Regions from separate parts of the Homo sapiens genome. Here regions 2, 3 and 4 are each reported to be linked to region 1. The links are microRNA targets in miRTarBase. Many come from high-throughput screens and were not tested one by one. Region 1 holds a microRNA gene; each other region holds the end of a gene's coding sequence.
Evidence for each region. The annotated mature microRNA hsa-miR-106b-5p reads UAAAGUGCUGACAGUGCAGAU and lies in region 1 at 3,479-3,499, shown strand. An mRNA with a match to its seed (bases 2 to 7 or 8) in the 3' UTR can be bound and repressed. Matches are read on the target gene's strand: a 7mer-m8 pairs with bases 2 to 8, a 7mer-A1 pairs with bases 2 to 7 and ends in A, and an 8mer does both.

Region 2: miRTarBase lists GOLT1B as a target of hsa-miR-106b-5p. The part of its 3' UTR that is shown has no 7-base or 8-base seed match.
Region 3: the mRNA of REV1 is a reported target of hsa-miR-106b-5p. The part of its 3' UTR that is shown has no 7-base or 8-base seed match.
Region 4: miRTarBase lists ZNF597 as a target of hsa-miR-106b-5p. Seed matches in the 3' UTR shown: 8mer at 1,372-1,379.

What each region holds. Positions count from the first base shown.
Region 1 is chr7:100,090,542-100,097,541 of GRCh38, reverse strand. MIR106B (microRNA 106b) reads left to right here and starts at 3,468; the gene lies at 3,468-3,549. COPS6 (COP9 signalosome subunit 6) reads right to left here. Exons shown (of 10, transcript NM_006833.5): 5 at 6,888-6,950; 6 at 6,593-6,640; 7 at 6,390-6,504; 8 at 6,212-6,304; 9 at 6,022-6,122; 10 at 5,355-5,893. The coding sequence ends at 5,753. MCM7 (minichromosome maintenance complex component 7) reads left to right here. Exons shown (of 15, transcript NM_005916.5): 10 at 158-241; 11 at 1,375-1,768; 12 at 2,072-2,155; 13 at 3,201-3,369; 14 at 4,141-4,250; 15 at 4,409-4,814. The coding sequence ends at 4,610. It overlaps MIR25 (microRNA 25), which reads left to right and starts at 3,899; the gene lies at 3,899-3,982. It also overlaps MIR93. RefSeq lists enhancers at 1,541-2,041, 5,822-6,116, 6,976-7,000.
Region 2 is chr12:21,514,630-21,521,764 of GRCh38, reverse strand. It overlaps GOLT1B (golgi transport 1B), which reads right to left. Exons shown (of 5, transcript NM_016072.5): 5 at 3,357-6,096. The coding sequence ends at 6,058. Among named protein-coding and RNA genes, the nearest start is that of SPX, 8.1 kb to the left of the region's middle.
Region 3 is chr2:99,395,482-99,402,643 of GRCh38, reverse strand. It overlaps REV1 (REV1 DNA directed polymerase), which reads left to right. Exons shown (of 23, transcript NM_016316.4): 22 at 298-400; 23 at 1,292-2,167. The coding sequence ends at 1,403. EIF5B (eukaryotic translation initiation factor 5B) reads right to left here. Exons shown (of 24, transcript NM_015904.4): 22 at 5,746-5,884; 23 at 3,735-3,896; 24 at 1,318-3,337. The coding sequence ends at 3,230. Among named protein-coding and RNA genes, the nearest start is that of EIF5B, 62 kb to the right of the region's middle.
Region 4 is chr16:3,430,541-3,437,702 of GRCh38, reverse strand. ZNF597 (zinc finger protein 597) reads left to right here. Exons shown (of 4, transcript NM_152457.3): 4 at 165-5,289. The coding sequence ends at 1,279. Among named protein-coding and RNA genes, the nearest start is that of ZNF597, 9.4 kb to the left of the region's middle. RefSeq lists a silencer at 5,505-5,554 and enhancers at 5,815-5,984, 5,751-6,252.

The DNA of each region.
Region 1 (7,000 bases):
TGTAGGTCACAGTATGAGTGGACATCTTGCCTTCGTGGACACAGGGAGGGCTTAGAAATAGTGCTGGGTGTTAGGGGTAGGCAGAACTCAAAATTGCTCTGTTGTTGGCCAAGCACTGGGAGAAGAGTCATTCCAGGGCTGCCTTCCCTTCCTCCAGGCAACATCAACATCTGTCTGATGGGGGATCCTGGTGTGGCCAAGTCTCAGCTCCTGTCATACATTGATCGACTGGCGCCTCGCAGTAAGTAGTTGGGCTTTGCGGGAGGTGAATATAGTGACAGACAGGACCACAGTGTTTATTCAAAAAGTAGGGGTGCATGTTTGCTCACGCCTGTAATCCCAATGCTCTGAGAGGCTGAGGCAGGAGAATCATTTGAGGCGAGGATTTTGAGACCGCTTCCATGTCTACTAAAAAGTTTTGTTTTTGTTTTTGTTTTTTTTGAGATAGAGGCTTGCTCTTTCGCCCAGGCCGGAGTGCAGTGGCGCTATCTCGGTTCACTGCAAGCTCCACCTCCTGGGGTCACGCCATTCTCCTGCCTCAGCCTCCCGAGTAGCTGGGACTACAGGCGCCCGCCACCACGCCTGGCTAATTCTTTGTATTTTTAATAGAGACGGGGTTTCACCGTGTTAGCCAGATGGTCTCGATATCCTGACCTCGTGATCCGCCCGCCTCGGCCTCCCAAAGTGCTGGGATTACAGGCGTGAGCCACCGCACCCGGCCTAAAAAGTTTTTTTTGTTGTTTGGGTATTGTTTTGTTTTTTGTTTTTTTTGAGACGGAGTCTCAGTCACCCAGACTGGAGTGCAATGGCATGGTCTTGGCTCACTGCAACCTCTGCCTCCCAGGTTCAAGCAATTCTCCTGCTTCGGCCTCCCGAGTAGCTGGGACTACAGGCGCGTGCCACCACACTTGGCCACTTTTTGTATTTTTAGTAGAGACAGGGTTTACTGTGTTGGGCAGGCTGGTCTCGAACTCCTGACCTCGTGATCTGCCCGCCTTGTTATCGGCCTCCGAAAGTGCTGGGATTAGAGGAGTTAGCCACTGCGCCCGGCCTCTACTAAAAAGTTTTAAAAATTGGTTGGGTGTGGTAGTGAGTGCCTATAGTCTCAGTTACTTGGGAGGCTGAGGCCGGAGGATGGCTTGAGCCCAGGAGCCAAGGTTTCAGTGAGCCACAGTTGTGTTCTGAAGAGAACCAGTGGGAGGGGAAGGGGGACATTGCCAGTGCCCCACAGATCCTCGGGCATCTCAAGAAGGCCTGGTGGAGGGAGTGGAATGATCCCAGCGCAGGCCTCGCCTCCCTGGCCCGTTTGTTGTCTTTTGCTTGTTCTCTTTCTTGTTCTTTCTCTCTCATGGTTCCTTATTTCTTCTCTTCCAGGCCAGTACACAACAGGCCGGGGCTCCTCAGGAGTGGGGCTTACGGCAGCTGTGCTGAGAGACTCCGTGAGTGGAGAACTGACCTTAGAGGGTGGGGCCCTGGTGCTGGCTGACCAGGGTGTGTGCTGCATTGATGAGTTCGACAAGATGGCTGAGGCCGACCGCACAGCCATCCACGAGGTCATGGAGCAGCAGACCATCTCCATTGCCAAGGCCGGCATTCTCACCACACTCAATGCCCGCTGCTCCATCCTGGCTGCCGCCAACCCTGCCTACGGGCGCTACAACCCTCGCCGCAGCCTGGAGCAGAACATACAGCTACCTGCTGCACTGCTCTCCCGGTTTGACCTCCTCTGGCTGATTCAGGACCGGCCCGACCGAGACAATGACCTACGGTGAATGAAGCTCAACACCCAAAGAGAGGTCCCCTGTAATGATCTGTGTAGGGAGGAGGAGAGGTGAATCAGAAAACAAATTCCACGCTCCTGGAAACCCCAGAGCCTCCCCTTTGCAGCAGGGGCTGGTCCATGGTTCTCAGGGAAATGGTGGGTTGGGGCTGAAATGCTGATGAGGATTTCCCGGGAAAGCTTGTCCCTCCTACACTGTGAGGAAGTGGCAGAGCCAAAGGAGGGACACCTAAGAGGACATGGGTGCGTAGCCCTAAAAAGGGTGTTCCTTCTAACCTTCCCTCTGTCCAGGTTGGCCCAGCACATCACCTATGTGCACCAGCACAGCCGGCAGCCCCCCTCCCAGTTTGAACCTCTGGACATGAAGCTCATGAGGTAGGAGAGCTGGGTGCGGGTGGGCAAACGTTGGCGTGGGCCGTGCGAGCCTCCTGAAAAAGTGCTTATTAGTCTTAGGGTGTGTGTTTTTCACACCACCACTTCCCGCTACAGACATGTCCAGAGCCTCAGATCAGCTTTTAAGTGGAAAATTCCACACTTCATATCATAGGGACACAGGAAATTTTGTTTCCTACACTATTTATTTTTTTTGAGACGAAGTCTTGCTCTGTCACCCAGGCTGGAGTGTAGTGATCTCAGCTCTCTGCAACCTCTGCCTCCCAGATTCAAGCGATTCTCCTGCCTCAGCCTCCTGAGTAGCTGGGATTACAGGCGCACGCCACCACGCCTGGTTAATTTTTTGTATTTTAGTAGAGAGCAGTTTCACCATGTTGGCCAGGATGCCCACCTCTGCCTCCCAAAGTGCTGGGATTACAGGCATGAACCACTGCTCCTGGCCCACAAAAATATTTTTAATAAAATTACCTTCAGGTTATGTGTATCAGTTGTATATGAAATACAGGTGAATTTCATGTTTAGACTGGAGTCCCATCCCCAAGCTATCTCATGCATATGCAAATACTCCAAAATTTAAAGTTTAAAACACCTGCTCCCAGGCATTCTGGATGATAATCTCTATCGCTATTTTCCCATGAGCCTCCAGTGTTCTTTCCGGTTTTTACTCCCTTTTAAATATTCTGTAAACAGTTCTCTTTAAATAAAATATATGTTTTGCCATGTCATGCGCTCAGAGGAGGGGTCTGGATCCTCTCTTAATGACAGACGGATTTGTCTTACAAAGGCCATTTTCCCGAAAAAAATAGGAAATAACTTGGAGGATACTGGTGGGGGCTATACGTTTGGTGAAATCCATCAGTGATATTCAAGCCAAGCAAATAATCACCCACTAATTTGTGTTTTCCACTTAAAATTCTTGGAGGGGACCATGTTAAATGGGGAGCCCTGGTACAGAAAACAACATGGGCTCATATTCACTCCCTTCCCCATCTCCCTCTTCTGCTTCCCCATGAACCTTCCCCCACAGGCGTTACATAGCCATGTGCCGCGAGAAGCAGCCCATGGTGCCAGAGTCTCTGGCTGACTACATCACAGCAGCATACGTGGAGATGAGGCGAGAGGCTTGGGCTAGTAAGGATGCCACCTATACTTCTGCCCGGACCCTGCTGGCTATCCTGCGCCTTTCCACTGCTCTGGTAAGTGCCCAAATTGCTGGAGGGCCATCTGTTTTGACCCTTAAAGGGGTAGCTCCTTACCGTGCTCTCATTGCCGCCTCCCCACCTCCCGCTCCAGCCCTGCCGGGGCTAAAGTGCTGACAGTGCAGATAGTGGTCCTCTCCGTGCTACCGCACTGTGGGTACTTGCTGCTCCAGCAGGGCACGCACAGCGTCCGTGGAGGGAAAGGCCTTTTCCCCACTTCTTAACCTTCACTGAGAGGGTGGTTGGGGTCTGTTTCACTCCATGTGTCCTAGATCCTGTGCTACAGACCTTCCTTTCTGTCCTCCCGTCTTGGACCTCAGTCCTGGGGGCTCCAAAGTGCTGTTCGTGCAGGTAGTGTGATTACCCAACCTACTGCTGAGCTAGCACTTCCCGAGCCCCCGGGACACGTTCTCTCTGCCAATTGTCTTCTTGGCTGAGCTCCCCAAGCTCCATCTGTCATGCTGGGGAGCCCAGTGGCGTTCAAAAGGGTCTGGTCTCCCTCACAGGACAGCTGAACTCCGGGACTGGCCAGTGTTGAGAGGCGGAGACTTGGGCAATTGCTGGACGCTGCCCTGGGCATTGCACTTGTCTCGGTCTGACAGTGCCGGCCCAACACTGCGGATGCTGGGGGGAGGGGGGATTCCACTCCTGTTTTGTGAGTAGGCGACCCATGGGCTGCCCAGCCTTAAAGCCAGAACAAGGGTGTCCCCTGACCTCGTTCCACTGCCCTCCTCCCGTTCCCATCTTTCCCCCCTACCTTCCCCTTAGGCACGTCTGAGAATGGTGGATGTGGTGGAGAAAGAAGATGTGAATGAAGCCATCAGGCTAATGGAGATGTCAAAGGACTCTCTTCTAGGAGACAAGGGGCAGACAGCTAGGTGAGTGGTTTAGTGAAGGACAAAGCTGTGTCACTTTGTCTTCTGTGGCCATGTGTCTGAGGTTGGCCTCAATTCTAACACTGGCCACCATTGTTCTCTGTTGATGTCGAGCATTCCTGTTTGTATCCTGACCTTACACACCCACTCATTTCCTTCAGGACTCAGAGACCAGCAGATGTGATATTTGCCACCGTCCGTGAACTGGTCTCAGGGGGCCGAAGTGTCCGGTTCTCTGAGGCAGAGCAGCGCTGTGTATCTCGTGGCTTCACACCCGCCCAGTTCCAGGCGGCTCTGGATGAATATGAGGAGCTCAATGTCTGGCAGGTCAATGCTTCCCGGACACGGATCACTTTTGTCTGATTCCAGCCTGCTTGCAACCCTGGGGTCCTCTTGTTCCCTGCTGGCCTGCCCCTTGGGAAGGGGCAGTGATGCCTTTGAGGGGAAGGAGGAGCCCCTCTTTCTCCCATGCTGCACTTACTCCTTTTGCTAATAAAAGTGTTTGTAGATTGTCATCTTCTAGCCTGGGCCTGACTTCCATTAAAACAGGGTTTTGTGCGTTTTTTAGATTCCTGTTCGTTTTTATGCTATTTCATCCACTCAGTAAATTACCTGAGTAAAGTGCATCTCCCTGCCAGGCCCCCAGTATAGACACTGGGGATGCGGCAAGGACTAAGCGGTCCCTGCTGTTTGGAGATACTTAAGATGGGGCTCCACTTTTTGAGCCCCCCGACTCCCTTATTTGGTCTTATACTGCCTGTGTGCAAGTCAGGCTCTGGGGATATGGCGCCAGTATGAAATGCAGGGTCTCTTGGTTTTTCCCCTTTTCTAGCAGACAGGTCATTACTTAGTTCCCAACTCCCACTCTAAAGCTCTGGTTAGCGGGTGATGAAAATCAGCACAAGTGATCACATACAGCAATCCCAACCTTTAGACCACTTCCTAGCTGCCTCTCCAAAATATGTAGTAAACGGTCATTGAGAAACTCTCCCTCCTGGTAATTCACAGTGCCCACAGGATCAAGGCTTGGACTTCTTTCTAATAAAAATCTGCTTACTATCCCTTCTTTTTTGCGTATGTGAAAAACAAGTTAATTTAGCTCAGGAAAGTAGTCAATTATCATGTTTATAAGGTTGGGTGGGCTAGGTAAGATGATGTAGAGGGTGACATTAAAGTGTAGAACAGAGACCACTTAGGTGGAAGCAGGCAGCCTTGGACTTTGCTAAAGACCAGTCCATGTGACTGACATGGGGTCACTTCAAATGGTAGTGCCTCCCTCACTGAAGAGCATCAGAAGGGCTTCTGAGCAAGGCCAGAATGAGCCTCGATGAACATCCAAGTTGACCAACCAGTGTGGTGCCTAACAGAGGACAGAGCCACCAGCAGGGGTGCTCAGGGGCTGCTCCCCTTTTATTAATGACAGCGGTTTCTCTCAAGGAAGTGTAGTGCCCTCCCCTTTGGGATAGTTGCCTGACCCCTGTCCATCAGCCCTTCAAGTACCCTCATCAGAAAAAGAGCCCGCGCATTCTCCTGCCGATGCCTTGTCGGTCGTAGAGGACATTGAACTTGTTCACAAACTGGTTCATGGTGTTGCACGTTTTGGTGATGGTGCCGAGGTAGGCCATGAGCCCCACGTCGTTGCATTGCTGGGAGGGAACAGAAAGGACCAGTTCCTCGGGATCCCTCGTGGCATGCCCGGGGAACAACAGTCCCCAGTCCTGCACGTGAAAGTGACAGCATAAGCCCCGCCTCCCCATCCGGGTTTTACACTCACATCATAAAAATCTGTCTTGAACTTGTCTGTGCTGAGCACCGGGAGACAGTGACACAGAGCATAGGCCTCCCGCAGGATCTCATGATTAAAGGGGACCTCTCCTAAAGGCACAAAAAGAGACTACATTAGTTTGGATGCTGTCACTTCCCCAGGAGGGAGAGGAAGAATGCCAGGGAAGCCCCTGTCCTACCCGCTTCAGAGGCCTTGACGTACTCCAAGATGAGCTTGACGCGGCTGTGCAGCATCTTGATGGCGCTGTGCTGTGCTATCAGGTGTTCAGCCACTGCAAGGGGATGAGGACAGGAGGAGGTTGAGACGGGATGTGGCCACACCTTCCAACCCCACTTCCAAGGAATCCCCTCCATTACCAGTGGAGTTCTCTCCACTGCCTGTTGCTGTCATTCGGGCTACGTGGTCTACACCAATGCGTTCCGCTTCCTCTGTGGCCAGAGTGTAGGTCAGCTCAGCAAACAGCATTGTGGCCTACAGGGCAAGGTAACCCACAAAGGGAGAATCAAAAGCAGGAAAGAGGCCAAGAGCAGGATCTGAGGGTTGAAGGGTAGGGTATTACCTCTCCATTGATTATATCAATGACAGACTCAAAAACGCTGACAGGAAGCTGTGAAGGAGACGGAGAAACCTGAACACTATATGCCAACATTTGGGCTAGCTGCTTTTACACATTTCCTCTCATCTTCCCAAGAAACCAATGAAGTAGGGATTACCTCCTTTCACAGTTTGGAGATTAAATGACTAAGCCAGAGTCACAGCTGGTAAGTGGCATCTGGCATTCCCCAATAGAGGAGTGTCACACAGTAAAAGGTATAGCGACAATCATGACAGAGTAGGCATGGAGTATTACTCACATCTGTGTGCTTGGTCATAGGGTTCAACTTCAGAAAGAGGGGGCTCTCGATGATCTCACACACCTGGAAGAGAGGGACAATGCACAGGAAGTCAGTGCCCCCTACCTTTCTCC
Region 2 (7,135 bases), not on the chromosome of region 1:
TGCCCAGAACCTATTTAACCAGTGATCACCTGTCACTGTTTAAATGACATTCTTTCAAGGTCAGTGATTATTGTGTTCACAAGGAAAACAGCTGCTATCTTGGATAAGGTTATCTGGACAATATGGCTATTATGGTACAAAATGCCTAAATTACTTTTTGATGACAGCATAGAGAGAATTTGGGTTGGATAACATGAATAAAGATATGGGTTCAATCTTCTGTGGGGCTTGTATTCAGCCCCTTAGGCCAGCTGTCTCATCATCAGATGAAAGAAGTCATTTCCCCAAAGGGTTACCAGTTTTAGGAGGGGCTTTAGGGGCATTAAGAAGGCCTGCTATCCAAAATAAAACTTCCCATTAATTGGCCAATGTCTTAACCTGGGTTTCCTTTTACTTAACACGTTAATTCCCGATGAGCTCACACCCTGAAGCAGATAATATTGCAATTCTTTGTTTACAGACTGTTTCAGATCCTTTCTCCAGAACTGCAGATAGGGAGGAGGAGAAAATATGAAGATATTGGTTTTCTGAGGAGAGTTAAGATAAGTACTGTTTAGGGGGAGTTGGGGTAGATAAAAGTGAAGCAGGGAAGACTCAAGTTCACCAATTTCATACTAACTTCTGGATTAAAATGTTTTACCATTCATTTCCAAAATGACAGAATAGTGCATATGAATTAATATACACCCACCATTACTACAGGATAATTCATAAGACATGGCTGCTAATGGTGTATGCTACGTAGGAGCAGCACAAAGACAGAGGACAAATATAGCAAAAAGGTCTTGGATCAAGATGCAAACAACAAAACACTAATACTCAACATTTTGGAAATGTTGAGCCATATAAACACTGGTAGCTCAGAAATGTGAAGAATGATCCCATAATCCTACAATGTGAATTAGGTTGAATACCAGCTGTTGCCAGGTGTGATCAATAGGAAGATGGGATAGTTAGTTGTCCTACTTCTAATCTATATCACTGGGCCAGAAATACTCTCAGGACAATAACACATGTTATTTTCACAACACTTTAAATTTGAGAAAGCCCTTTGACACCCATTGTTACATTCATTTTTCACACCAAATTCATGCAGTAGATCCTGAATTTCACTTAAGAGCATACTCATAGAGTTTGACTTGACATGACACTAAATGGTAGAGTTAGTGTTTTAGCACCAAGACTGGTCTTTATACCGCCACAGAACTCATAGTCACCTCATGGGATCACATCACATCAGACGAGTCTTCTTCAGGGATTCAATTACCCATTATTATCAGTATTAATTCATATATGTAAAAGACCATCGTGCAAGTGATCCCTCTTGTCATAGGGTATTATTTCTGGCTTTTGTCACTTAAGGAATAAATTTCATTTTCTCTTTGGGATAATTTTACTTTGTAATACCAGCTCCAGTGACCAACAAAACCCAAGAAACTCGTCATTTCCTATTGGAAAGAAAGGAAAACTGAGTATCAGTGATTCACACCAGCCTCAAAACTTTAGGAGTAGCTTCTGGTTTCCCCAGCGGCCTCCCTTTTTTGTGAAGAAGGGCAGCCAATCTGGAGGCATGGTCTTTCTTTTATCTATGATCCCTCTCTCCGTTGACAAGCTACTGGGTACAGTAAAGTCCTAAGGAATGTGAAGTAGAAAGGTGGACTTCAGCGGGGGCCAGATCATTAGATTTAACTTTACGGCTGATAGAGGCTGATTTCAATATATTAGAAGTGATCAGGCCGGGCATGGTGGCTCAAGCCTGTAATCCCAGCACTTTGGGAGGCCGAGGTGGGCAGATCACGAGGTCAGGAGTTCGGGACCAGCCTGGCTAACATGGCAAAACCCCATCTCTACTAGAAATACAAAAATTAGCCAGGTGTGGTGGCGGGTGCCTGTAATCCCAGCTACTCAGGAGGCTGAGGCGGGAGAATCACTTGAACCCAGAAGGTGAAGGCTGCAGTGAGCCAAGATCATGCCACTGCACTCCAGCCTGGGTGACAAGAGCAAGTCTCAAAAAACAAAAACGAACAAACAAAAAAAAGAAGTGATCAGTGGGGCCAGCACCAGAAGAGCTGGAAGAATGAACTTTCACTCATTAAACCACTTACTGGGCACCCACTAAATGCCAGGAACTGGAGATACAAATCAAAGAGGAGATTTCGAACCTCAAGAATCTTTTCCATAACCAAATCAATACAAAGCAAGTGGAAAGTTGTATGAGAGGACAGGGAAGGAGCAACTGTTTGGGCCTAGCTGGTAAGGAAAGATATGACAGCAGTGACATTTTAATCAGGCCTTGAGAATTGAGTAAAGCTAAGGTCATGGAAACGCATGTTAGTCAATGAAGAATTTTGGGCATGCTGCTAGTGTCCAATCTCCTACATGGATACAGGTAACAGAAGAACTGAGGTTGGGGCCTTTTGGCTCAGGTCAAGATTAGAGAAATATGCTGGATATTTAATAACAGATTCAAGACTTCCCGTTTACCCAACAATAGTCTGGATTTGCAGCTTAATTAGTGAATTCAACAAATACTTACTGGGTATGTTAAGTGGTAGACTTGGCCAGTGTTTTTTTTCGGCCTTAATAAAATTTACAGTTAAAACAATGTAGGTGTTGTGGTCTTATTTAGGTGAGAAAAACTTAAGATCCTTTCCATCCTGAGAAAAAATATATAAGCATTTCTCCTCTAATTTCTAAATTCCCTCACCGCTTTTTAAACTTTGCAATTAATGGTAGCAATCATAGCAGCTTTCAGAAAACTACCCCAACTGCCTGTGGCAATACAGATTTGGTGGCAGGCTTCCAGACAACACAAATAGCAGTGACAGTTCTAAATCCCTAGGCCTACATTAAAAACAATTCTCTTCCCCCTGCCACAAAGAAACCAAAAACATACGCTACATTAAGTTGAATACATATACAGACTTGCAAAAGAAATTACATCTCAAAACAAACCTCCCAGAGTTAAAGCTGGTATTATTTTTTTTCCTCCAGACATCTTTTGAAAATGCGAACCAATCACACAGCTTTTCTCCCAGTCAAGAGTTACTAAAACTATTCAACACAGCTGAAGGTTGAATAGTTCTAGTAACTCTTGACTGGGAGAAAAATAAGAGGTTGGGGTGTTTCGACTGCAAATTCTTCTACCACCATTTGTTTGCAGTGTAAGTCAGGACAAGTTATGTGGAAATACGGCTAAGAATTTAAAAGCAATGTTAACATTCTAAGCACTTAATGAGCAGATGGCACATATCTTGTTCTCCTGGGTCTCCCACATTCAACACAGGACTTTTAGTATTCAAGGGGTACTCAGAAAATGTCTATTGAATAACATAATATACAAACTGGGAGTCTGATTTTTAAAAAATAGCATATTGCCCAAGGTAAGTGACTTTATTTTACAGTTTTCAAAATTAAGAACATTTTTGCTTACTTGAAGTCTATTTGTATTCATTAGTACATTTCAACAATTTGGAAATGAAAGATGTGAAGATCATTTGATAAATAGAACACTGCATATAAGGCTAATTTTTTAAAAATGAGGTTATTTTGCAATGCTAAATTAGCTTTTAGAACTTCATAACACAGATATACTTGACCACCAATTAATAGAAAAGTACCCTTTTATTGAGAGGTAAGACAAGTATATTTACAATATTCAATTGTTAGATAATATAATCTGACAGTGGGACTTTTTAAAGCAGCAGTATTTCAGGAATTACAATTTATAAGGGGAAAAGAAAAACATTCCAAATATGTTTCTGTTACAGAAAATACACTTGAACAATGACAGAAACACTTAAGGCTATGTAGTATTAGACCTTTTCCTCCATCTCTATAAAGTACATTTTTGTTACAGACAGAAGGCTGATTTTGGAAAGAAAGAAACAATAGGATGTATAGTGCTTTCTATCAGCAGACTAGTATGTTTAAAAATAGTCTCATCAAGGGTTCTGAATAAGAAATATAAATGTTGCCAGGCAGTCCCAAACTCACATTTGATATTAACTGCAGACTCATTTAAAACTGAAAACTGCTCCAGCCTCTCTCAATCTTTACTAAGGACTGGGAGATTATCAAACCCTTTCAAGTCTAATAATGCTTTTGAATTAAGATTATTGAAAAAAGGAATCTCTGTTACAGTGCAAAGAACATTTTGATAGAAATTCATGTCTACAAAGGAGTTAAATACAGATGTCCCTTACATTAGCAGATACTATTCTTGCTCTAAAAAGGTAGAATTATCAAGACATTGTAAATAATATGGGTCAAAAATATGTGTAACAGAGTTCTACAGGGCACCTTATATAAAGTCAATCCTCAAAGTATGTATTTGACACTCTCCAAGTGAGGATATTACTTTTTTGAAGAACATTAGACACAACAGTAGCCTCTTATTATTCCATTAACTATTGAGGTAGGAGTCTCCATTTGTCAATATCATCCCATTTTCACAGATACATCGTAAGTCAAATGCAAGTACCAAAAATGTCTTAATCCTTAAGACTAAACCATCACACTATACACCAAGTCTTTCCTTATTTAGATGAGCAAGATTGGGAGTTCTCTGTGTATTAAGAGATTTAACTAAAAATAAAATAAGCTGTAATCTATTTTTGTAGACATGTTTGTAAATAAATACCACAGATTTCAATTATACTTTTATGCATTAAAAAGCTTTGCAACTGTTAAAAAAACAAAACAGTGCAATCAGTGGTAAAACAAATAGTACTATGGCTGTTGAAATGTTTCCCTACATCTACCACTAAAGCTGTCACATCTTGTAAAACTAAAGAAAACAGCTATTTCCTACTGTCTAATAATCAGCAACGGTGGAAAAAAAACACTTTTTTTTTAGTGTCATGTTCTTAAGAAACCACAGTCAGTTTATTACAGTGAAATGACTTTAGCACGTGAACTCAGGTATTTTCTAATTAACTCAAGATGAGTGATCATATGAAGGATATGTCATGCTTAATGACTATTATATGCTAGGAAAAAGCTGAAAATAAGGGAAAACTCAGATTAAATGAATAGCCCTTTAAAAATAGCCATAAGTTTAACCTTTTAACATGTTACATGTCTTAAAGTAAACATTATCAAAAGTTATTTTAATTTATGAAAAACAAATAATAAGCCACTGCTAAAATTTAAAAAAAAGAAAGAAGAAAGAAAAATTACATCATGACATGGAAAAAATCCATTTGGTTTGCATCATTTAGTATCTTCAATAATACTATTCAATGAGACAAGCTATGAAACAAACTACTTCATTCATGGTCAAGAATGCTTTTTTGTTAAATACTTACACGTAATGAATGATATAGACAGATACTTAGGAGGGCAGACTCCCAAGAAGTATGAGACTTTCCGGAGTATGCTGCTGACAAAACTTAGCTATAATTTAGTAACTAAAAGTTAGTAAAGAATGACCTTTGCATATTCCAACAAAGAATATCTAGTTCAGATTTTCACCTGGCTTTGAAATATTAAGATTCAGAAGAACCACAAAAGTTTTATTTTAACCATGTTTACAAAAAAAAGTAATCCATACATCAAAATTGGGGTTTCCTTGGTTTTAATACTTTAAAATGACACAATCCAATCGAATTCATGCATCACTTCCAGAGATACAGTGCAACTGGAAATATTTTTGCCATTGCAGTGGACATTTCTAAAAAGCAAATGCCTATGGATGCTCCTGAGCCTTCAAAATAAAAAGAAAAGAAACAGGCACCACAGTTCTCTAAGGATGGCTGAGTTTCGCACATTGTGGAAAAACAACACAAATAGCCTTCAAGAGTTTCTTAAGCATCATTAACATGGATTTCACCTCTCTCAGTTTGCTTGCTGACTTCTTCTTAGTTCACTTGAGTAGAAGCCTGTTTTCACTGCTTCTTTGCTAATTTGCTGCTGGTACTTTGTAGGCTATACGTTTTAAACTCCTGTAAAGAACATTACAAGCTATTTCATGTAATTTAATTTTGTGCTGAATATTCTTCAAATGACTTTATAAATAACACAATATTTTAAATGAGTCTTCAAATTCACTTGTTGTTATACCATATTGTTGCTTTCTCCAACTTTATCTACAAACTGTAAGGAGAAGAAAAACAGAGAATTAAAGAAAGCCCGGAACATTATAAAACATTATATCAATATTTAAAATGTTGATTTTAAAAACCCAGCCTTACAAGAAGAGTTGTGGAAATTTAAGGTATGACTGACAATGACTAATCCAGTACTACTCACCATCATCTTCTGATACATAAACGTGTATAAAATTTTTTTTTCTAAAAGTTGTTTTTTGCATGACATGTTATACATATGAATTTAAGGGTGCAACATGAAAAATGCAACACAATGAATAAAGAAATTGTATAAGATGAAGATAACACTGCTAGCTTAACAAAAAATAAAAAATAAAAACATAAAAAAAACTGAAATGTCAGCCATTCATGCATTAATGAACCCAATAAGATATTTCAACTGACCATTACTGTGGATCTCTTCTGGGCCTATGTAGTCTTTGGACAAACAGATTTAACTCCATTAAGTTCAATAGTTAACAACAGTTATTGACTAAAAATACTTTAAATGTGTATTCTGGACTTTGGATTGAAAGTGGTAATGACATTAAAGATAGATTTAATGATGTAAGCATAAATTTATAATTATTGAATATAAATTTTAACACACATTACTGTAAGTGGTTATTTACTTTGGTTACTCCACCCCAAACATAAAGCAGTTGGGCTTTTTTTTTTTTTTTAACATTCCAGATGGTGATGTAAAGACTGATATTGTATATAATTGGTAGAGACATTAAAAGTTATATAACCCAGGTGGTTATACTATCAAATTCTAGTAATCATCTGATCATTTATTTTGTTTCACGATTCACATGTTTACATAAGCACTTATCATGATGAATAACGATAAGAAACATATTCTATTGTATTGGGTGTCCATTTATGCAAATTCTTGAGAATCCTTAAATTAAGGGCACAAATAATGATTACAACTCTGTAACTAGAAGTTTCAGTACATTCAAAAGCCATTCTAGGTATAAATAACACTGACCACTGTATGAATTTGCAGATTAATGCAAATGAAATCAGAGTATACCCCTATA
Region 3 (7,162 bases), not on the chromosome of region 1:
GTTGGCTTGGCCTGTGTTAGATGGCCCAAGGCTGAGATGTAGTCGTCTCATGATTTGAGAACATAAACAGACTAAACTATGCAGATTTAACCCATTTCTCTAACTCTGATAAGCTTAAAGCAGCTACCCCCAAATCTTTTAAATTCTGGGACTTGCTTTGAAAAGTAACAAAGCCCATTCCTTTGATAGCTGTTAGTGACATAGTTGTAGAAATGCAGTTTTCCTTTATCCATGCAGATCTCTGACTTTCTCCTTCAAAAAGACTGGTCCTCATTTGAAGTTTTTCCCCCTTCCTAGATCCAATGGAAGAAGACATTCTCCAAGTTGTGAAATACTGTACTGATCTAATAGAAGAAAAAGATTTGGAAAAACTGGATCTAGTTATAAAATACATGAAAAGGTAGTAATTCATCACTTTTATCAAATGGGAAAAAATGGCATGTCACAATGGCTGAGGGTGTACTGAGTTGTTTTAAACTTTCTGGGAAACTGTACTCATTAGGGTTAATGAGAAAGTGATATCCTTTATTTTGCCATGTTGACTAAGTAGCAAATAAGGTTCCAAATATGTTGCCCTCAAGGTCTTACATGTGATTAAAAAACCATAGGAAGTGGGCTGGGCACAGTGGCTCACGCCTGTACTTCACTTCGGGAGGCTGGGGTGGGTGGATCGTTTGAGACCAGCCTGGCCAAAATGGCATAACCCCATCTCTACTGAAAAATACAAAAAATAAATAATCTGGGGGGGTGGTGGTGCCCACCTGTGGTCCCAGTTACTTGGGAGGTGGAGGCTGCGGTGAACCATGATTGCACCACTGCATGGCTCCAGCCTGATCGACAGCTTGTCTCAAAACAAAATAAAAAAAAATTTGAGTGTTCTAGGATTTTATTTTTTTTGAGATGGAGTCTCACTCTGTCGCCCAGGCTGGAGTGCAGTGGCAGGATCTTGGCTTACTGCAGCCTCTGCCTCCTGGGTTCCAGTGACTCTCCTGCCTCAGCCTCCCGGGTAGCTGGGATTATAGGCATGTGCCACCATGCCCACCTAATTTTTCTATTTTTTGTAGAGACGGGGTTTTACCATGTTGGCCAGGCTGGTCTCAAACTCCTGACCTCAGGTGATCCGCCCTCCTCGGCCTCCCAAAGTGCTGGGATTACAGGCATGAGCCACACCGCACCTGGCCAGGACTTTTTTTTTTTTTTGCCAAAGTCAATTTTTATATATAAAAAGGAATAATTAGTCTTAAGGACCTTTCCTAATTCCTAATGACATTTCTTCTCTCCCCACCTTTAGGCTGATGCAGCAATCGGTGGAATCGGTTTGGAATATGGCATTTGACTTTATTCTTGACAATGTCCAGGTGGTTTTACAACAAACTTATGGAAGCACATTAAAAGTTACATAAATATTACCAGAGAGCCTGATGCTCTCTGATAGCTGTGCCATAAGTGCTTGTGAGGTATTTGCAAAGTGCATGATAGTAATGCTCGGAGTTTTTATAATTTTAAATTTCTTTTAAAGCAAGTGTTTTGTACATTTCTTTTCAAAAAGTGCCAAATTTGTCAGTATTGCATGTAAATAATTGTGTTAATTATTTTACTGTAGCATAGATTCTATTTACAAAATGTTTGTTTATAAAGTTTTATGGATTTTTACAGTGAAGTGTTTACAGTTGTTTAATAAAGAACTGTATGTATATTTTGTACAGGCTCCTTTTTGTGAATCCTTAAAAACTCAACTCTAGGAAGCAACTACTGTTTATTATACTAAAAGGCTGAAAAACCTCCAGGCCAGACTGCTAAGCTCTGAAATTCCTGAGAGGTCTCAGACCGGGATTCTACTTGTTCCAAGAAAGGGTAAAGCTTCTAAACCATCTTATTCTTGTCTCCAAGCATGAACACAGGAGCATGTTAAGAAAATCTTTACTACTTCTTCCATGCGGAGAAATCTACATATTTTGAATTAGAAACACCCTCACACCCACTTGAAGATTTTTTTCCTGGGAACATTATGTCCCGTAGATCAGAGGTGGTGTTGTCTTTTTGCTTCTACTGGCCATTGAGAAACTTTGATGATAAAAAAGAACGGTATAGATTTTTCAAACGTATATAAAATATTTTTATGTTATATGTTATGCCATAACTTTAAAATAAAAATAGTTTAAAATTCTATGCTAGTGGATATTTGGAACTTTTTCCTCAAACAAACACCCCACACTGACTTCAGCAAAACCCTAAAACTAGCTACAGATTACTACTACGAATGAATCATTAAGTTTTGTGTCTGCAACAATTTAGAAGCACTAAGCCCAAATATCAGGAAATGTGTGTATGATGGAATTTTCTAGGACAAAACAGATCAAGATTAAAACAGATCAAGATTAATGTATAAAAATCTCTACTAAAACAGATCAAGATTAAAACAGATCAAGATTAATGTATAAAAATCTCTACTGTTACCAGGTGCTGGCATACAAGGTAGTGTGATGATAGTTTAGTTTGTAAGATAATTCTTGTCCTAGGAGGACAACTTGTGGGAGAGAAGCTACACTAACATGGAAGCCTAACAGAGCTTGCTTACTGGTGGATGTCTGTTTTCTTTATTGGTAGTTTGGTTTAGAATTGTGATGATTACAATGGACTCGTGACTACACAAGCAGTAAAAAGCAGCCAGCTGTGCTTTTACACCATGGTTTCACACAAAGCAGCTAAAGAAATATCAGAATGCCTAATTTTCTATTTTATAAAAGCCCTAAAGGCATATGGCAGAAGAATGCTGGAAAAATCACTGTGGGAAGAATATGCATAAATAAAGAAGTATTTCTTACGTCAAAAAAGTCCCAAGAATCACAAAATCTGCAGAAGCTTGGTTAATCAAATACTGCAGTACTGATTTAATCAGTATAAAATCGAAAGAGCTTTAGATCTGTAATAAAAATCCAAATTTGGGGAAGGGCAAACTTTAAAACAGCAGCCAAGTAGAGAAGGGTTGGGGAAGGGAGAGGTGAGTGAACAGGCACATTGGAACTGTGGGGACATGTAACTGACCACTGTCAAACCAGTGTAAGTTTCTTGGTTTCTCATGGAAAACATTTTATACACCTATTTTTCTTCCTTCCATACTTAAGTCCATCAGTGTCCAAATACGTCTGTTCCATTTTTTGTCTGATTTTTGTTGGGATATTACAACACAGTATTGCATTTACTCCAGTTCCTGCTCCATGTGAAAAAATTAGATGATTTCAAATACTTTCTTCAGCTCCACAATAAGCTGCCAGTCACTCTTCTGCATTTCATCTCTGAACCAGTCTTTGAGTGCATCAATGGACTGCCGGCTGATCTGCAATGCCCGAGGCACAAACAGGGTAAACAGAACATAACAAACGTGCCAAAGAAAGCTGTGGCCCCAGATGCCCGCTCTCACTGTACTAAAAAGCTTAAGCAGAAATAAAAAACAGGGCTTGCCTGCCTAAGGGAGTAGAATTCCAAAATCACATCTGGTTTGCATGTCAGGCACGAGGGGACCTAAAAGTCCTAGCTTTCTCTGTTGGTGCTGCTTTCCTGATAGAGCAACTTCCTCAACAGACAAGGCCCAGCTAGAGGTCAAGCCCTAATGGGGGATCCAGTCCCATCAGATTCTACAATCAAACTGAAGCCCAAGGAGCTACAGGTACAGGTGACCCAAGAAGAGTGATTCCCTGTTGCTTAAAGTGTGCCACTTTTGCTGAAATACTTACCTTACTAACAAGAATATCTGTAGCTTCAAAATGTCTTCCAAACATTTTGGGTGACTCACCAGGGATAGGTTCTATTTTTACACAAACTTCTTGTCCTTTTTTTGCAACATCCACTTGTTTATGGTTTATTTCAATACTTGTTACTATTCCGATGTCAACAAACTATAAAATAAGAACAAATTAAAATGCATGCAGAAGAATTCATGCCAATCACAGGCGCCATGGCTGGATAGCTGAAGTAAGAACTAGAGCAAAAGCCTGTTTTAAAAGTCATGGCAGTGCGATCCTTTCATCACTCACGGTGTAACATTTTGGTAAACTAGGCTGGCACCACCAACACCCTATTCCCTTCATGATGGTTGTAAGAATGACAGGAGATAATGTGCTTTGCAAAACATTCCAAGTGCCCTGTTGACCCAATGTCATTTCCTATTTTTGCTCTACCATTTCACGTGACAGGTGCCGTAATAGGAGGGATCAGCAGGCACAAAGGGTCTGAGTCAGGAATGAGCTTGAAGTGGCTGATGGGAATGAAGTCAGAGTGAGGACCAATCCTGAAATTTTAAGAATGATGGCCTGTGAGCAGATGAGTGATGTGATCTCAGAGTTTGGGGCAAAAAACCCTGACTCCTTTGTGGAGAAAAAGATTCAGGAGAGTAAGAGTGAAAACAGGGAGAGCTCTGGTTGGTTTAGGAGGCCAAAGCCACATAGAAAGTAACACAAATAAATGTCCAGGCTTAGTCCACTGAAATGGTAGAAAAGCAATGACAACTTCTAAGTGCCATTGCCCATTACAAGAACCAGGTTTGGGCCAGGGAAAGTACTAGATGAGGCTGGAACATCTCAACCAGAAAGGAAGATGATGCTCAGACTGCTGTGTGTCAAGGATACAGGAGCCAGTTGAGCTCCTACTGACCACAATAGAAAATCTGAGTATCAAAAGAATAAAGGTAATGGATTATATTAAAAAAAAAAAAACCCACTGAGTCTATGACTCAATAAAAAGGTCAGTGGGAAGAGGTTCTTTGTAAGAAATGGGGGGACAGGTATATCCACAATTTTGCAACCATCTACGTAATAGTTGACTTAGGCAACGCTTGCCAGTGGGTACTAAAGGCACTGGGATAAAGGCTGTTGAGAAACAGGATATCCATTAGGAACTCCAGGTACCAGACAGATTACAGAGTAATTATAAAGGGGCAAGTTTCTAATGGAGATGGTTGGCGTCTAGCACTTTCCCCAGGAAATCAGAGCATCAGCAGCAGTCAGACAGGCTGGGTCATGCAAGAGGCAGGCACACAGGGAAACTGCATGAGTGTCTTTCCAATAATTCTAACCTGTGTCTAGTTGGGAGGGAGAGAAACAGATAAATCCAAATGGAGGAGGGATTTGCAAAACAACAGGGACACTTCAAAAAGAATGGAGGACTGTTCTTGACTGAGGCTCAGCCACAAAACAAGCCCCAGTGCAATGCAGCTTGCAGGGCACTGGGCCAGATTGGTGGGGAGAGTTACCAAAACATCTTTGGAATAACTGGTGAAATAATGTTGAGGGCTGCAAATTATAGGATATTGTTGAAATATTATTAATTTTTCTTAGGTATGCTGACAGAAAGGGAAGGTAAACATGAGTGTTCATTATACTAGTTTTTAAACTTTTCCACAGGCTTGAAACCTTTCAAAATAAAATAAAAGGCAATAATGTAAAGTGCCTTGGAGCCCCAATTAACTGAAGCACTGAGATCAGCACTGAGTCAACACTGACTATGGAGCACTGATATTTACCAATACTGAAGCACAACAGAAGGTGACAGGCTCTGCTTGTTTTAAAGTTACCACATTTTCTTCCTACTGAGGTAAAAACACTGAAACATTTGTTAAGAAGGTGGAGACCACACTAAATACACAGCACAGTACTGTGAACTACAGGCACAAAGCTGTGTTGGTACGACTCTTGGACACTCATTTAGTGCTTTAAGAAATGACCCACAGAATGTACAACTAGAACTTACATTTTTGCTTGGGACACACATGGGTGTCCCCTGTTTCACCTGACCTGCTTCCACCGTCACCCCCATCACTATCGGATCTCGAGAATTAAAAATGTACTGAGGGAGGATTTTTATCTTGCAGGGAAATACTGCTATGTGCCTGAAAGGAAAAAAGAAAAGAATTTTAAGCTTACAGAATCACTTAAACATAAAAAGAAAAACTGCAGCTGAACATCAGGCTTCTCCCATTAGAGGAAAGCAGCTTTCCCCAGCGGCCACAGGAGAGGGGCAGGCAGGGTGCTGCAGCCCAGGGCCACCCCATGCCCAGAGCGCTTCTTCCTTGTTCTTAACCTCCTCCTCCCCATTCTGTTGCTTCCCAAGTCTTTGCTTTCTTCTCTTTTAAAGCCCTACCTCCAAAAGAAGCTGCATCACAGGAGCATTCTGTTCCTAGTCTAAAACACTGAGCTTGGCTGCTGAAGATGTCAGCCACAGTCTGGGGCTTAGAACCTAGGCAGTACCTGGTGACAGGCAGGTCTTCGTTAGGCACATATGTAGGCTACTGGGGGATCACATAGGCATCAGACCGTATTATCACCCTCCTTTTCTCCACCACGTTCCCAAACCATTGATCCAAAAGGCCACTACATAACTACCCTGCTTATTGAGCACACGCTTAAAATGCTTTAAAAGTTTCCAGCAGTCTTGTTAAGTAGAATTCTTCTCACTTCAGGTTTCATGATCTAAAGTGAGCATATACCAGTCTAAATCCTAATATTTACTAGTAAGCTCCACTTAAAAATGTATCCCAAACTACGCCATCACTCCTATCATCACTGTGGTCTGAATCACCTAGACCTCTTGCTTGGACTGTGGGAGCCTCCTGACAGGCTCTTGCCACTGACTTCCTAACAACCCAAGGTCCACATAACAACCCAATTAACCAGTCTGATTGTGAACACACAGCCTTGGCAATGGCTTCTTGCAAAACTCAGAGAAGCTCAATCCCTCCCATGGCCTGTAAGATCCTTGACGATACAGGTCCTGCCACCCTCTCTGACCTCATTTATCACTGTCCCTTCTGGTCACTCTGCCTCGCACTGCTGTTCTCTCTGGACACTCCCCATGTGCCTGTGTGGCTTACTCTGTCTGAAGAGGTGAGATGCCTTCCCAAACCACATCATTAATCACAGTCCCTCCTCTCCTTATCTAGGCCCTTCCCTGCTTTATTTGGTTTTTCAGCACTTCTCAACATGTGTCAATTGTCCTGCAATAAGAGCATGTCCCAGACCAGGCACAGTGGCTTACACCTATAATCCCAGCACTTTGGGAGGCAGAGGCAGGTGGATCACTTGAGCTCAGGAGTTCAAGACCAGCCTGGCCAACATGGCGAAACCCTATCTCTACCAAAAATACAAAAAATTAGCCAGGCATAGTGGTG
Region 4 (7,162 bases), not on the chromosome of region 1:
CAGGAGAGTCTGCTTGGTCCTGATTTTGTGTGGTTAGTGTCTGGGTTATAGAATAACCCTTCTAAGGTTTCCTGGTCCTGTTTGTAACTACCTTAGCTTACTTTTTCCCCAGTATCCCTTGAAGATATTGTCTATGTTTTGCTTTCTTTTGTTTTTATCAACAGGAGAGGAAGGCAAGCCTGAGATTAATCAGCAGTTAAGCCTAGAGTCTATGGAACTTGACGAGCTTGCCTTAGAAAAGTACCCCATTGCTGCACCCCTTGTCCCTTACCCAGAAAAATCCTCTGAGGATGGAGTTGGAAACCCTGAAGCGAAAATATTAAGTGGAACTCCCACTTACAAGAGAAGGGTCATCAGCCTTTTAGTTACCATTGAAAACCACACCCCATTAGTAGAACTCTCTGAATATTTAGGAACCAACACACTTTCTGAAATTCTTGATTCTCCCTGGGAAGGAGCCAAAAATGTGTACAAATGTCCTGAGTGTGACCAAAACTTCAGCGATCATTCATACCTAGTTTTGCATCAGAAAATTCATTCAGGAGAGAAAAAACATAAATGTGGTGACTGTGGAAAGATCTTCAATCATAGAGCCAACCTGAGGACACACAGGAGAATCCATACTGGTGAGAAACCTTATAAGTGTGCCAAGTGCAGTGCCAGCTTTCGCCAGCACTCTCATCTATCCCGACACATGAATAGCCACGTAAAGGAGAAGCCCTATACATGTAGCATATGTGGTAGAGGTTTTATGTGGCTCCCAGGATTGGCACAGCATCAGAAAAGCCACAGTGCTGAAAACACCTACGAATCTACTAACTGTGATAAACATTTTAATGAGAAACCAAATCTTGCTTTGCCTGAGGAAACATTCGTATCAGGCCCCCAGTACCAGCACACTAAGTGCATGAAGAGCTTCAGGCAGTCCTTATATCCTGCCCTTTCCGAGAAGAGCCACGACGAGGACTCTGAACGCTGCAGCGATGATGGGGACAATTTCTTCTCATTCTCAAAATTCAAGCCCTTACAGTGTCCTGACTGTGACATGACCTTTCCTTGTTTCTCTGAGCTTATTTCCCATCAGAACATTCATACAGAGGAAAGGCCCCATAAGTGCAAAACATGCGAGGAAAGTTTTGCTTTGGACTCAGAACTTGCATGCCACCAGAAGAGCCACATGCTAGCGGAACCTTTTAAATGTACCGTGTGTGGGAAAACTTTCAAGTCGAATTTGCATCTCATTACTCATAAGCGAACTCACATAAAAAACACCACGTAAAGTAAATATAACAAATTGTTATTAGTGATTGGGCTTTTCAGTATCTGTATGGTGGGAAGCAGTTACTGTATATGTCCCAGGCAATGTGCTAAGCACTTTACACACATTCCCATGTAATACTTAATTCTCAGCACAACCGTGATTTAGGCAGTATCATTTCCATTTTATAAGTAGGGATGCAAAATCCGTGTCACTAAACTAGTGAATGAACCCAGGATTTGAACTCAGTTACTGTACAACTGTGAGCCAGAAGAAGATACACAACTTTTGTTTAAATTCAATTTTCATTAAAATGAAGGCTCTTGCTAAAGTTATTTTAATTTTGTTTACGTAGTTTCTGACTTTTAGAAGGAGGAGAATTTATTTATATTTTGCCAGTTCTGCAGACATATCTAGGAAAGTAAATGCTTTTATATGTTTTATACTTTTTTTTGCTATAACTATTTGAATGTAATACTTGTATAAGATTGCTGTTCTACATGTGAATTCCCACAGGCGTTCAGAAGTTTTTTTCTGCCCTGTAAAAGTTCCCAAATGGGTAGACTAGTTTATATTTTGATGGCCATTAGTATCCGGAGTTCTCTGTCATGGTTCTGATGCCAGGGGCACATACTGGCATTTAGGACCCAATTGTTTGCAAGGAGTTTTGGAAGTCTAACTGCAGCCCTTTTCTGGAGGCTGGACTTGACTTGGGGAGGGGGAGAAGTACTTGCTCTTTTCTAAGATTTGCCTCCAAATTGCTACTGAAGCACATTACCTGTCTTACTATGAATAATTGTAATTGTTTCTCAGTGAGCATGCTAGCTACTTTAGATATATTATGTAATTTAATCTTCAGAATCTGTGACAGAGAAAAAAAATCTTTGTTTCATAAACGAGGAAACTGAAGTCCTCAGAGGGTAAAGTCAGTTCTTTGCCCAGCACACAAATCACATTGTGGTGAAACTGACATTAAGCTTGGGTTTCTCTGACTCCAAAGGCCATGCAGTCTGCAAGACTGCGGCATTTGTTGGCATTTGCACCACGTAGTAGCACTGCAGGCAGCCAGGGAAAGGGGAGCTGAGATAGGTGAGGGTGGTCCTCATGGAGGCGATTCTGTGTGCTTGCATCCTGGAACCCCTTCATTCCCTTTGTGCTGTACCCAAAGCCTGACTAACATATACAGTTACAAAGCAGCAGAAGACTCTCCAGGACTTCAGGTTTGAATTCTTGTCCCTCTAATCAGATGAGAGATTTCACACTTGGCAGAGTACAATACTGAAGGTCTTAACTGGGTTTTGGTTTTTTAAAAAACACCCATAACATTTCCTCTCCATCTCCAAAGAAAATGCATATAGAAAATTGTTAGATTTTAACCAAAATACTTGATAATATATAGATCTTTAGATATTGCTATTATAGATAAATACTGGAGCAAAATATTATTAAATGGTATGGTTATTAATGTTAAAGAACCACAGAATGTTGTAAATATAGATTCATATACAATTTCTCATTAAAGTCGATTGTATGCCTATCAGCAAAACAATATTTACATGGGTTTTGATTAGGATGGAAGAATGCTCTCATTCTATTTAAATAGACAGTATAAAAGTACAATATTTGCTAAAATTGAATTGTTGCTGGGAATTTTTGCTGGGAGAAAAGATAAAGGACTCTTGAGGACTAATTATATGGAAGGTAGCAGAAGGTGGTCCTACAGAACAGCAGATTGAGGACTAAATATACAAAAAATGCTGGCTACTCAGCTAAGCTCTTATTACTGAGTAGAGGCAGGAAGATACTGTTCAGGTGAGAGAAAAACTGAAACTAACAAAAACATCCCTAACCCAGAGAGAGTTTCTCTCTCTTTGTCATTCTTGTCTTGTTTCTTGTTTGCAGATCCACAGTTGAGACAATGTGCTGCTCTGTATGTCAAGGTCAGACTTTGGCTGTTTGTTTCTGATGTCTCCACTCTTAGGAGACAGGACACCAGCTTCCAGGTTTCTCTGAGGTGCTTTGAAATGTGTAGAAAGATAGTCTCCAGTTAGATTACTTATTAGGCAACTCTGAGATACCATGACCTTTGTTAAATAACAAGAACACCACCTCCTTGCTCTCCTGCTTCTGCCCTCAGTGGGAGAAACTGGCAGGAGCCTCATCAGCACATATCAGGGGCCCTAAGAGTTCAGTCAAAGATCTAATGAGTCACAGGATGGGGGATGAAATTGGGAAAGGTCTGGATTAGCAGAGTTGCTGCAGAAAGAAGTAGAGGGGAATATCTTAGAAGGCACTTGGACAGAATGGGGGTGATATAAAAGATGTATGCTGTCATTTTTGTTTTGGCTCCTAGAAAATATAGCAGAAAGTGAGAATTTGTGCCATACATCCTGTTCTGCACCTTAATATGGAAGTTTGCCTTTCCACACGAGTCTTCCTTCACAATTAACCTCTAATTTTTTTTTTTGCAGTTTTCTCCAGATTTTGGAAGATTACGACAAACTTCCTAAAAGATTAGAAAAAATAGCCCTTTTCAGAAACATTAACATACGTGTGGGTAGAACTAAAATGGCTTTTTGGTATAATACTGTTAATGATTAGTATGCAGAAAAAAATGAAAACCCCGGAAGTGTCAGTTACTGTGAAAGAGGCATATTTTCAGTTGTGCTTATTGTGCAGTTGTACTTAAATACATTTGCTAGATGTAATTCAAGCTGCTTTACCCCCAGGGAATTGAAGGAAAAGATATATCTGCTGGTGAGCTTCAGGCTTTTTATGATGATGGCATTTCACCCTTCTGTTTACAGTGTCAACTGATGGAGATAAATTCCATAAAATTGTCATTAACTCAGATACTAGCCTTCCATGTTAGGTGCTATTCACAAATACTGGATAAAAGTTAATATGGGAATGAAAAACTAAATGCAAGAGTTTATTGCTATGAATGATTGGTTAACTGCATTTTGCAGCATGGAAATCAACACACTATGAGAGTGAAAACTTTGTGCTGAATAAATTGACTCAGACAAATTTCTCCGTTTTTGTCGTTGATGCAGTGATGAAAATGTATATCCAACAGTTCCTTAACATGATTGCTGGAATAGTTAAACAGTCTTTTAAACAGTCGTCATTGATGAAAACAGCATTTTTCCAATGGAATTCAGATGTCAGCAGTTTACATTTTATAATTTAAGAAATTGTGGAATGTAGTTGTTTTGAATGAGGTCGACTCAGAATAGTTTTATTTAGAGCTTTGTTGCTACAGGTGGTAGTCTATTGACACCTCCTCATTTAACATAGAAAATGACTAACCCAATAATTCAGGGAGTTAAAACTCAAATGACATTTCACAGCAAATGCCATTTTGAGTCTTTGCCTCCTGAGTTTCCATATAATTAAGTGGCAATGTTCTAGTGACTGCAGCATAAGATGTCATACAATCTGAAACTGCAGAGTTTGATCAAAGTAATCTGCAATTTACTGCCTATGTGTACAAAGGGAGACATAGCAGGTTATAGTTTATATGAATAGTCTATTTTGAATGTTCATTAAACTTGTTATCCCTGTGGGATTTTAGTAGGAAAGTGTATTTGCTTTGACCATCTGTTTAACAAAATGATGTTCATTACATTAGAAGTGTATGTATTCATCTGGTTTAGTTTTGTAATTTAGAAGAGCTATTGATCTGATTCAAAGATAACCATTACCCATCTTTCCAAGGCCCATCTAAGTAGTACAGGTGTTTTGTCTTTTAAAATTGACAGTCCTCTTTGCATTAAGTCTGTAGGGGGGGAATACAATATAAATATTCTTCTGTGTAAACGTAAGAATGTGCTGTAATCTCCAGTTCCTTTGGATACCTCAGAATTCTATTTATTGTATACACTTATACTGTTTATTCAATGTTTTGGGTCTTACTCTTTTTGACGTATTCTCATCAGTCTTCACTCTAGTTTGCAAGCTCTGAAGTTATTGATTACGTCTAATGTGCAATTTGGCTTCTATTAAATGCTATTTTATGATGATGGCAATGAAGTGAACTTTTTAAAAAAAATACGTGGTTTTAGGTGGCAATCAGGTTAATTTTGAAGACTGTTAGGATTCTGGTTTAGAGACAGAGAGTGAAGGACTTCGTGCTACTTAATAAGGGAAGTAAAATCGCTTGCTCCCTGGAACTCAGCAGAAAATTCTGGGTCATTCTGGGAAGCTAGCGCTAGACCTCAATTTCCTTTCGTCTTTGCTGTACACAGAAGTACAGGGGCAAGGACCTCTGTCTTCACGGAGCAGCTACTGCCTGGCACGGGTTGCCACTTAAAGCTTGGATTCCGAGTAGCGGATGTGGTGAGTAGGACTCCCAGAAGACCTCGCGCGGCCTCAGGGAGATCCTGGGTCTCCAGCTTGGCCACCAACTGCACGGGTCAGCGGAAGTGTCAACGAGATGACTTGCGCTACAGCGGCACACTGGTGAGGAACCGGAAGCCACGAGCCGAGCCACTTCCGGTGCCCGCTTCCGGTAGCGCCTGCGCATTCCTGGGGCAAGTGGACTGTGGTGAACGGTGGAGATCCAGTGGTGGGGTTTGGCCATGTGCCTGGCCATATCCACTGCATATCGCTAGGTGATCTCCGTGTAAATCTAGCAGTACGGGTAAGAGTGTTTGCGGAGGAACTCCTCAGGTCTCTTCCTCCGCATCAGCAGGAGGGTATCATGGGTGTGACTGTCGGGCACTAACACGAATCTCCATCCCATGATTCTAGGCGTTAGGACTGGAGAAGCAGCTCCGGGCCACCGTCCCAGCTCTAATCTCACTTAGGCAATGCAGAGCTGTGGGCCTGACTACCACGTGTGTCTCTGGCTTGTTGAAATGGGCACTTTGTACATCTCACTTGTGCTGGGTAGAGTGTCTTTTCTTTAGAACCAGTACCAATCTCTTAGGCTTTTGGCATTCTCTGCAGCCAAATTCTAACATGCTTCTACTTAGCTGGAATGTACCCTCGGCTTACCTTTGGTAAATGGTATCTCCCCAGGTGAGCTTAGCCACTTCCATGGCTACAAAGACCTCATTTTAGGTCTAGCTCCAATTTCTTTTCTATGTACTCCAGATTCCTACATTCAGGTGCCTACAGGAGTCGTCTTTTAGATGTCTCTCAGGCATCAAAACACATGCCCTTAACTCATGCTTTTAGCCCCTGATCTGTTTGCCTCCAGTATGTGGGGCCACATCCATACAATTGCTCATGCTATCAACAAACACTCCCTCTTTCCTCTTGCTATGGCTTGAATATTTGTGTACCCTAAAAATTCATGTGTTGGAATTCTAACACTTAAACTGATGTTATTAGGAGGTGGGGACTTTGGCAGACCCCTCATGATTGGGATTAGTGTCCTTATAAAAGAGACTGCAGGCCGGGTGTGGTGGCTTACGTCTGTAATCCCAGTGCTTTGGGAGGCCAAGGTGTGAGAATTGCTTAAAGCCAGGAGTTCAAGACCGGCCTGGGAAACATAGCGACACGCCATCTTTTCAAAAAATTTATTTAGCCCGGTGTGGTGGCTGGTGCTTGTAGTCCTAGCTACTTGGGAGGCTGAGGCAGGAGGATTGCTTGAGCCCAGGAAGTTGAGGTTACAGTGAACTATGATTGGCCCACTGTACTCGAGCCTGTGAGGACCCAGCAAGAAGGTGCCATTGTGGAAATGGCCCTCACCAGACAATGAATCTGCCAGCACCTTGATCTGGGTTTCCTAGCCTCTAGAACTATGAGAAAAAAATTTCTGTTGTTTATAAACTACCTGGCTTATGGTAACTTTTTATAGAAGCCAGAACAGACTAAGACATCACATCCACTCAATCATCAAGTCTCATGGATTCTACCTCAAAAGTATCACCAAAACCTGAATGTTTCTGTCTC